Regions from separate parts of the Homo sapiens genome. Here region 2 is linked to region 1. Evidence: fine-mapped expression QTL. A gene starts in region 1. The other region holds a variant in brackets. All regions are shown on one strand. Distances are from middle to middle.

Evidence for each region. PIP is the estimated chance that this variant, and not a neighbour inherited with it, causes the effect. A credible set is the group of variants that fine-mapping cannot tell apart.
Region 2: its variant is the best candidate, but not a certain one, in a credible set for the expression of ZNF385A in whole blood (TOPMed, PIP 0.75).

The regions. Positions count from the first base shown.
Region 1 is chr12:54,383,015-54,387,402 of GRCh38, reverse strand. It overlaps ZNF385A (zinc finger protein 385A), which reads left to right and starts at 2,670. Exons shown (of 7, transcript NM_015481.3): 1 at 2,670-2,975. The coding sequence starts at 2,889. All of the region lies in intron 1 of GPR84-AS1 (GPR84, ZNF385A, ITGA5 and GTSF1 antisense RNA 1), which reads right to left. RefSeq lists an enhancer at 1-113.
Region 2 is chr12:54,458,559-54,462,946 of GRCh38, reverse strand. It overlaps GTSF1 (gametocyte specific factor 1), which reads left to right. Exons shown (of 9, transcript NM_144594.3): 5 at 222-305; 6 at 775-838; 7 at 2,476-2,570; 8 at 3,822-3,858. The coding sequence ends at 3,838. All of the region lies in intron 3 of GPR84-AS1 (GPR84, ZNF385A, ITGA5 and GTSF1 antisense RNA 1), which reads right to left. Among named protein-coding and RNA genes, the nearest start is that of GTSF1, 13 kb to the left of the region's middle. The variant A/C (reference allele first, on the strand shown) is at 2,060.

The DNA of each region.
Region 1 (4,388 bases):
CTCAGAATGGAGTGGACCCAGGAATCTGGGAAGTAGATAGTTTGTCTCCAGTTGCCTGCCTGCTTCCTTCCCTCACTGTACCCTCATTTGACCCCTCTCTCCCACTCCACTCCCCTCCCCTCCCCCGCTCACCCAGGGCTCATGTCTGTGGAAAAGATGAGTTGTTAGCCATAGATAACTGAGTGGCTGCTACCTGTTTTCCTCTATCCCTCCTCTGGAGGAAAAATGAGGACTCCAACCTGAGGAAGTGCATGGAACCTGCTCTCCCCTTCCTCTCCTTGAACAAGATGGAAGCCTGTGCTCAGATCTCTGCTTCAGTTAAATTCAAGCCCTTTGGGAGTAAGGTAGCAGAGAAAGAATTTGCTGTAGAGTCCAGCAGATCTTGATCTATATCTCAGCTCTGATATTTACAGGCTGTGTGACATCAGCCAAGTTTGTTAACTACTCTGAGTCTCCATTTCCTCATAAGTCAAGTAGAAAAATATTATCAGCTACTTCATTGAATCATGGCTACTTCATTGAGCTACTTCAGAGGTTAAATATGATAATACTTGGAATTCATTACCTGGCACATAGTAGCCTCAAATTTTTTTCTGTGGCTTTTTCTGGAACTCTGCTGTCTCCTCTTAAGATGGCTTTGAGGAGTGGGAGCCTAGAGAAATCTAGAACCAGGGAAAGGGTCAAGCCAAGCTTCAGCCTCTGGTGCTCTGGGGCAGGGCAAGTGCCAGCCCAAAACCAGCTGCTGGGGGTGGATGCTGGGTGCAGGGGACTCTGGGAGCACTCAGGTTTCTCTCACCATTCCTGATGCCGCCTGGGGCTCATTAAGGCTGCCCTGGCCTTGGGTAACAGGCAGTAAGGGAGGGTGGGGCACAGAGGGCAGATGCCATAAGGGGACAGACCAGGAAGGGGAGGTGGTCAAGCTGCCCCATCCATCTATCTGTCCCTCTCTCTTCTCTTTTATCTTTCTCGCTGTCTCTGTTCTCTGTCTCTCGGTCTGTCTGCCCTAGTCTCTAGTTCTGTGTCCAGCTTTTCGGCAGTGTCTCTCTGTTTGTATGTCTGATTTCGCTCTCTGACATCTCTCCATTGTTCTCTATCCTTTTCTCTCTCAGTGTCACTGTCCGATTCCTCAGTCACCTATTCCTGCTGCTACCACTCTCCCATCCTCTCACTCACTTTCATCTGTCCGTCTCTCTGTGTGTGTGTGTGTGTGTGTGTGTGTGTGTGTGTGTCCTCTCTCCACCCCATCCCAACCTTGAAGGTGACAGAGGAGGGAATAGACACAAAGCATACAGACCCCCAGCTACTTAAGGGTCAAAGCCAAGGATCTTACCCTCTCCTTTAGCCCTGAGAATTCTGAAGCCCAAACTCCCAGTAGCCTTGACCCCCTGCTCTGTCTCAGTCACCCTGACCACCCATCCTGGCATGGGGTGAAAGAGACAGACCCCTCCAGACCTTTCTGGACCAGCTCCCAGCCCCCAGCTGTGCCTGAGCCCTCCCCACCCCCTCCCTGTCGCCTCAGATTCCCCTAATCCCTGCTCCCCTGCCCTCCCCTCTGCCCCACTTTTCCAGGATTCTGATTGGCTGATTCTACTGACTGGGCTGAGGGGGAGGGGGCTGGCAAGGGAGGGGGCAGAGGGCAGAACCAAGGGAAGGGGACGCTGTCAGGCCCAGGCCCCTGGGGGGCCAGGGCCAGGCCACTGCCTGGGGGCAGCAGGCATCAGAAACTAAAGGTATGAAAGGGGGTGGTGTCTGGAGGGAACAGGAAGGGATCCTGGAGACCTTCTGCTCTAGTAAAGTCAAGGGAGGACGGGCCAAGCACGCAGCCTCCTCGGTTTGCCTTTGTTCCTGGGAACCCCTGTTGCTGTCAGGGGGTTACTGGAGCAGTGAAGGGCGGCCAGAACTCCCCAGCTGGTGCACAGCAGGGTCGCAGAAGGGAGCTGGGCCAGTGGAAGCCCAGAAGGGCTCTGAGGACCTTTGGGCTGCCCCTTTGGAGTCTGGTGGAGTTCCTCCCGTGACTCTGAGAGGAGGAGGAGAAGGTTTCAGAGAAGGGTAGTTGAATGGCTGGCCTGGACTTTCATTTCCCCTTGGGGTCAGACCCAGGCATTCCCCGCCCATAGGCCAGGTCGAGGTTCCTCCTGCAGAACTGGACCTGTAGCTGAGCATTCCTGGTGAGACAAAAGGGCATGGGGGAAGACTGAGGAAGGTTGGGAGAAGGGGCTCTGAGAATGGCCTAGGTAGTTCACCTCCCAGAGCAAAAGCCACCCAACCCACTACCTACCCCCACAGATGTCAATAGTTAATAAAGAATTATAGTTAGAGCAAAATCTAATTCTAGGGCATCTGAGAGATTCAGCAGCCCCCCTCCAAATCTAAGTCTCAATATCCCCCTCTGGTCAGTAGGATGAATCACCCACTTGACTCTCTTCTTCCTGGGGCGATACCAAGCTTTAGGATCCCCTGGGGGAAAGCAAAACCAGAAGAAGAGGGTGGCCAGGGGCTTGAGGCTGGGAGTCCTGCTGGTTCAGCAGGCAGCCTGCAGAAAAGGTATGAGCTCTTACTGGGTCTGTAATGTGCCTAAGGAGTTTGGGGGAGGGAGGCTGGAAAAGGGGGAAGTGAAAACCACCCAGAAGGGAAGGACTGGTCTACACCCTCCCCCAGGCCCACAGGGCACTGTGCTCCATTGCTCTGGAGCCAGCAGGGGAAGTGTGTACACTATGTGCACTGAGGGTGACACTTCTGAGTGTGGGGGCCCTGGCTAGGGAGTGGGACTGGCAGGCTTGGGTGGGGTTCCCAAGCTTTAATCTTCCTACCCCACAGAATGTTTTCTCTGCCCTTCAGGCAGCCTGAGCCGGGCAGGGCCCCTGCCTCTGCTACGGCAGCCCCCGATCATGCAGCCCCCACTGGACCTCAAGCAGATCCTGCCCTTCCCACTCGAGCCAGCCCCTACCCTTGGCCTCTTCAGCAACTACAGCACCGTAAGTAGCAGCCTGCCTGCCTTCTCCATCCTCTTGTGACCCGACCTTTCTCTCTCAGACCCACCTCTGCCCTCTTCTTCTGTTTCTAATTCCTTATCTCCTCTTATGACCCCATCTTCCTTAATTCTAGTTAATTTTGAGTATTGTGGGCCATCTGGTACAGTGTTAACAACAATAATAATAGCTAATATTTGCTGAGGTCTTGCTACGGGCCAGACACTGTGCTAAGTGTTTTATATGAATTATCTCATTTAGTCCTACAGTGAATCGCCCTACCATCTAGAGAAGTAATGAGACTTAAATTGGTGGTAGTAACAGTAGGGAGGTAGGAGGGGTGTAGGTGCTGAATCCAGAAAGAGGGAATGAGCAGGAAAATAAGCATGCCTGTTTGTAAGTTTCACCTCTCTGCAGTCCACGGCTGGGTGGGTAGCATCAGTGGGATAGGGCTTGGAGGACTGGCAAGGTGGTCTAGATTTAATACAATATGAAATAAGGAGGTGCTGTCTATTCGTGTGTTTGTTTGTTTGTTTTTATGAGACGGAGTCTCACTCTGTTGCCCAGTCTGGTGTGCAGTGGCACGATCTTGGGTCACTGCAGCCTCCACCTCCCCAGTTCACCGATTCTCCTGCCTCGGCCTCCCAAGTAGCTGGGATTACAGGCGTGTGCCACCACACCGGGCTAATTTTTGTATTTTTAGTAGAGATGGGGTTTCACCATGTTGGCCAGGCTGGTCTCAAACTCCTGACCTCAGGTGATCCGCCTGCCTCAGCCTCCCAAAGTGCTGGGATTACAGGCATGAGCCACCACACCCAGCCGCCACTGTCTATTCTTGAGCAGGAGAGTGACTTGGTAAGAGCAGTGTTTGAGGAAGGTGAGTGGGGCAACTGGATGAAAGGGAACAGAGGCAGGAGGAAGGTGACAGTTAGGAGGCTGTCCTAGCAATGCAGGCCCGAGGGAAGCCTCAAAAGCCAGACGGGGCTGGTGGCAGTGGCAGTATGAGTGGAGAGAAAGGGAGAATGGGGGAGGTAATTTCAAGGAAATATTGACAGGCCATGGTGACCAACTGGTGTTTGGGGGTGGGGGAGAAGAGAAGGCATGAGTCAAGGATGACTCCAGCATTCAGGCCTTTGTGATTGGATGGAAGTCACCACTGACAGAGGCAGAGGGTTGGAAGAGGAAGCTGGTCTCCAGTGAGGATGATGCTTTAGCATGTGGTGCTAAAGCTAAAGCTTTATTTGTTTTGTTTTGTTTTGTTTTGTTTTTGAGATGTAGTCTTGCTCAATCTCTCAGGCTGGAGTGCAGTGGCATGATGATCTTGACTCATTGCAACCTCCGCCTCCTGGGTTCAAGCCATTCTCCTGCCTCACCCTCCTCAGTAGCTGGGATTACAGGCACGTACCACCATGCCCAGCT
Region 2 (4,388 bases), 76 kb before region 1:
ATAAATCTTTTATTGCCATAAATATGGTAAACATTTTTGTTTCTGCTTTTCTTTCTTCTGTCAGCAAAGAGATAAGATCCCTCTTTTAGCTTTTATACTATCCATTTTTCAGAAATAAAGACCCAACAGGCTACCCTTGCAACCTTTTAAGCTACTAGCCCCTTTGAACACAATAACTTGGCAATATCCCCCTCTTATATCCAATCTTTATTGTCTTGCAGTCAACCAAACCAGGAGCCTTAGACAAGAGACTCTGGCTGAGAGCACTTGGCAGTGCCCTCCTTGCGATGAAGACTGGGATAAAGGTGAGCTGCCTCTACATCTTTTTCTTCACAATGTCTAAATCTCAAGTCATTTGCTTAAGACAGAAGGAAGATTTTCCTTTTTTATGAACATACCATGTTGTTCAGAATGCCTTATTATTTTTATTGGGCCCCAAAACGAGCACATTTGTATCGCTGTGCAGACACGTGGAACAGCCAATCCCTCTTGATTGGAAAAAGCACTTCTTTACATCTGTTTTTTTCCATAAATTGTGTTGTACCATCTGTGTTTGATTGTTAGTAGGCACGTTTATTATTATTTATGTTGCTTGTGTTTATATTCTTCAATTAAATTCTTGCTACTGTGTCACTTAGGCAGGACACTTGATCAATTTTTACTTGCTTCTGCAAAACTTAGGTGTATTATTTCCCATCTTATAAATTCAACCAACATGAACTGCTGGTGTCTTATCTAGTAGTACCACAAACTATGTTTTGCTTCCTTTAACAGATTTGTGGGAGCAGACCAGCACCCCATTTGTCTGGGGCACAACTCACTACTCTGACAACAACAGGTAAATGAAATAGTCTTATCCCAGCATTGTCTCCCAAAATCAGCGTGTTCTGTTACCAAGAGAAGCCACCGGAGCATGAATTGACCACTTTCTTTAACGATGTTCCTTGATGGTAGTTTAGTCTAGATATTGTTTTGGCATTTTTTCATATTTATTCCTTGATTCAAAAAGGTCATGTGCTTTGTGCCAATCATAAGGGATACAAAAATACATTATCGTTTAGCAAGGGAAACAGTAGCCCCAGACTTTCATGTGTCTTAGTTATGTTTTTTGCTAGGTTTACATTATTTTAATGCTTTGAAAAAATTCTCCCACTATACCACTTGGATCATTTTTACTTTAGGTAACTAGTGTATAGGAAAAAGCAGTCTTAAAAATTCTTTATTTGAGATTGGAAAATCCAGAGTACCTATTAGGAAAGAATATGCATCTCTTCTTCCCACTGATTTTGTATCTGATTTATTTTTTTAGAGACAGGGACTCTGTCAACCAGGCTGGAGTGTAATGGCATGATCATGGCTCACTGCAGGCTCTGCCTCCTGGGCTCAAGCGATCCCCCTGGGCCTCTCAAATAGCAAGAACTATAGGGATCCACCACCACACCTAGCTAATTCTTTATTTTTGCCCAGGCTGGTCTCAAACTTCTGGCCTCAAGTGATCCTCCCCCCTCTGCCTCCCAAAGTGTTGCTCATGCCCAGCTCTAATTGAAAACTAGATGATTTCTGGCCAGGCACAGAGTAGCTCATACCTGGAGGCCAAGGTGGGAGGATCGCTGAGGCCAGGAGTTCAAGATCAACATGAGTAACACAGTAAGATCCTGTCTCTACAAAAAAATTAAAAAAAAAAAATAAGCTGGGCATGGTGGTGGATGCCTATAGTCTCAGCTACTTGGGAAGTTGAGACCAGAGGATCATTTAAGCCCAGGAGGTCGAGGCTGCAGTGAGCCATGATCATGCCACTGCACTCCAGCCTGGGTGACAGAAAGAGTCCTTGTCCAAAATAAAATAAAAATGAATGAAGCTATTTCTCATTAACACCAATACTCAAACCTTGGAAGATCAAGTTTCAAACCCAAATGAGAATATTTCTGGTTTAGGAAATGAAGGAATAAGATGCTAGACTTCACTTTTTTCCCCAAACAGAATGCTTGTCAAATTTTTACTTTTTAACTACTGAGAACAGTAAATAATTTTAAGTGTATACTATTTTATGTGCACTAAG[A/C]TAGAAAAACTTAAAATGAATTCCGTTGGCTACAACTTTTAATTTTACCTCAGTTGAAGATTTGCTGCTTTTGGTTTGGTTGCCTTAGCACTTTATTTTATCTCTTACGTTTATTGAGTGAGTTGATGAGCCTGTCATACAGCTGAACAGTAGATGGCATTGCTGTTTATCTCAATTTCTAGAAAATGAAAATGGTTAGACCCATCTTAATGTCTATACAGAACAGGGAGCTTTCCAGAGAAGTAAGTGGTAATCATTCTAATTGCCGGAACGTTTTGATGGAAATGTGTTTACATTTCAGATGAATGTAGGTTGTTGTTTTTCCCCAAATTACAAAAAACACATTTTGATTATCTTACGTGTGCCTGCTTGAATGATACTGATCTGCCGACATAGCCAAATTCATCTTTTTGCAGCCCTGCGAGCAACATAGTTACAGAACATAAGAATAACCTGGCTTCAGGCATGCGAGTTCCCAAATCTCTGCCGTATGTTCTGCCATGGAAAAACAGTAAGTGAAATAGAGACAAAATAGTTTTACTCTTTTCATTGTGCTAAATACAGTTGATCTTGATTATTCAGATGTGTTCAGTCTGAACACCTTGCATTTCCATGACCCTTAAAGTGAGTGCCTCCTTAAATGTTATGCCCTAAGCACCTTACTCAGTTCACCCTACTGACCGTGGTTAGGAGCAAGAAATTATGAACAGGAAAGTATAAGATCACAGAAGCCAAAAGAATATTTTCAAAATGGGGTGACCACTGACGTCAAATACCATGAGAAAATTTGGGAGCCAATAAAAAGGTTAATGATTTGGGCTAGGAGGAAGTGATCCCTGATTTCTTTCAAGGCATAATATCAGGCCGGGCGCGGTGGCTCACGCCTGTAATCCCAGCACTTTGGGAGGCCGAGGCGGGCGGATCACGAGGTCAGGAGATCGAGACCATCCCGGCTAAAACGGTGAAACCCCGTCTCTACTAAAAATACAAAAAATTAGCCGGGCGTAGTGGCGGGCGCCTGTAGTCCCAGCTACTTGGGAGGCTGAGGCAGGAGAATGGCGTGAACCCGGGAGGCGGAGCTTGCAGTGAGCCGAGATCCCGCCACTGCACTCCAGCCTGGGCGACAGAGCGAGACTCCGTCTCAAAAAAAAAAAAAAAAAAAAAAGGCATAATATCAGTAGGGAATTGGGATCAGAAATTGGATTGTGAGGGCCTAAAAGGAAATGAGTAGAGAGAAAATGAAAGTCATAAGTCATAAGAACCAGCATAAAGAATGGTATTCAGATGTCCTCCCCAGACTTTAGAGGTCATGCTGGGTAAACAAGTACTAAATTTGTATCATATTACCGTCATAATGAAATTTCCACATAGAGAACACCCAAGATACTGTCATTTTTACTTAATACAAACTTTCTTTTCCAATGTTGCCCCTAGATTCAGATTCTCTTGATTTCAGTCTGTGCTACTGTTTGAGCTAATTTTTAGGTGGCTAGAGGATTCACTTTAAAACGTTTCTCCCTGGATACTTGCATTTCCCAAAAAATGAAGTCACCAAATTATATGTCAAAAGGCTTGGTAGGTAAAGGTCTATTTTCTTTTCCCATGCTCTTGAATGAAATCTGATTACTAATATTAAATTCTTCTACTTTTATATTATAATTCAGTATACACAGGAATAAGTCATTTGTGTTTAGTAAGAATAGGGGATGGAGTGAATTTCAATTGACATGGTGTATTTATTTTGAAATATTTCTACTTGTAGATGGAAATGCACAGTAACTGAATACCTATCTCATCAAGTAAGTGTTTCAGTTTTATTTCACTGTCTCTTCAGATGGTAGCAAGATTTAACTGGACATAAAGCAATTTGGGTCCAATTTTCTTTCAGATTATGGTACCAAATTAAAGCTTTGTGTGTGCATGTGTTTTTTAAGTATATAGCCTCTGTTATGGCTTTACACTCTAATGAATAGGCATTTACTGGTTAAATTAGAATTCTGTTAACATGCCAATTTGTTTTCTCTAACATTAGTACACATTGCCTTTTTTTTTTTTATCAAAGTTGCATTCTAGATCTATCATGCCTCTTTTAATGGACTGAGATTAATCATTGAGCTGTGCTTCACTGCTCTGCAATTCATTCCCTGTGCAGTACAGTTTAATACTCATCAAAAAATTCATACTTTTTTTAATGAGCACTTAAAAGTTTTGGGTTTCTGGCCGGGTGCAGTGGCTCACGCCTGTAATCCCAGCACGGGGAGACCAAGGCGGGCAGACCATTTGAGGTCAGGAGTTTGAGACCAGCCTGGCCAACATGGTGAAACCCTGT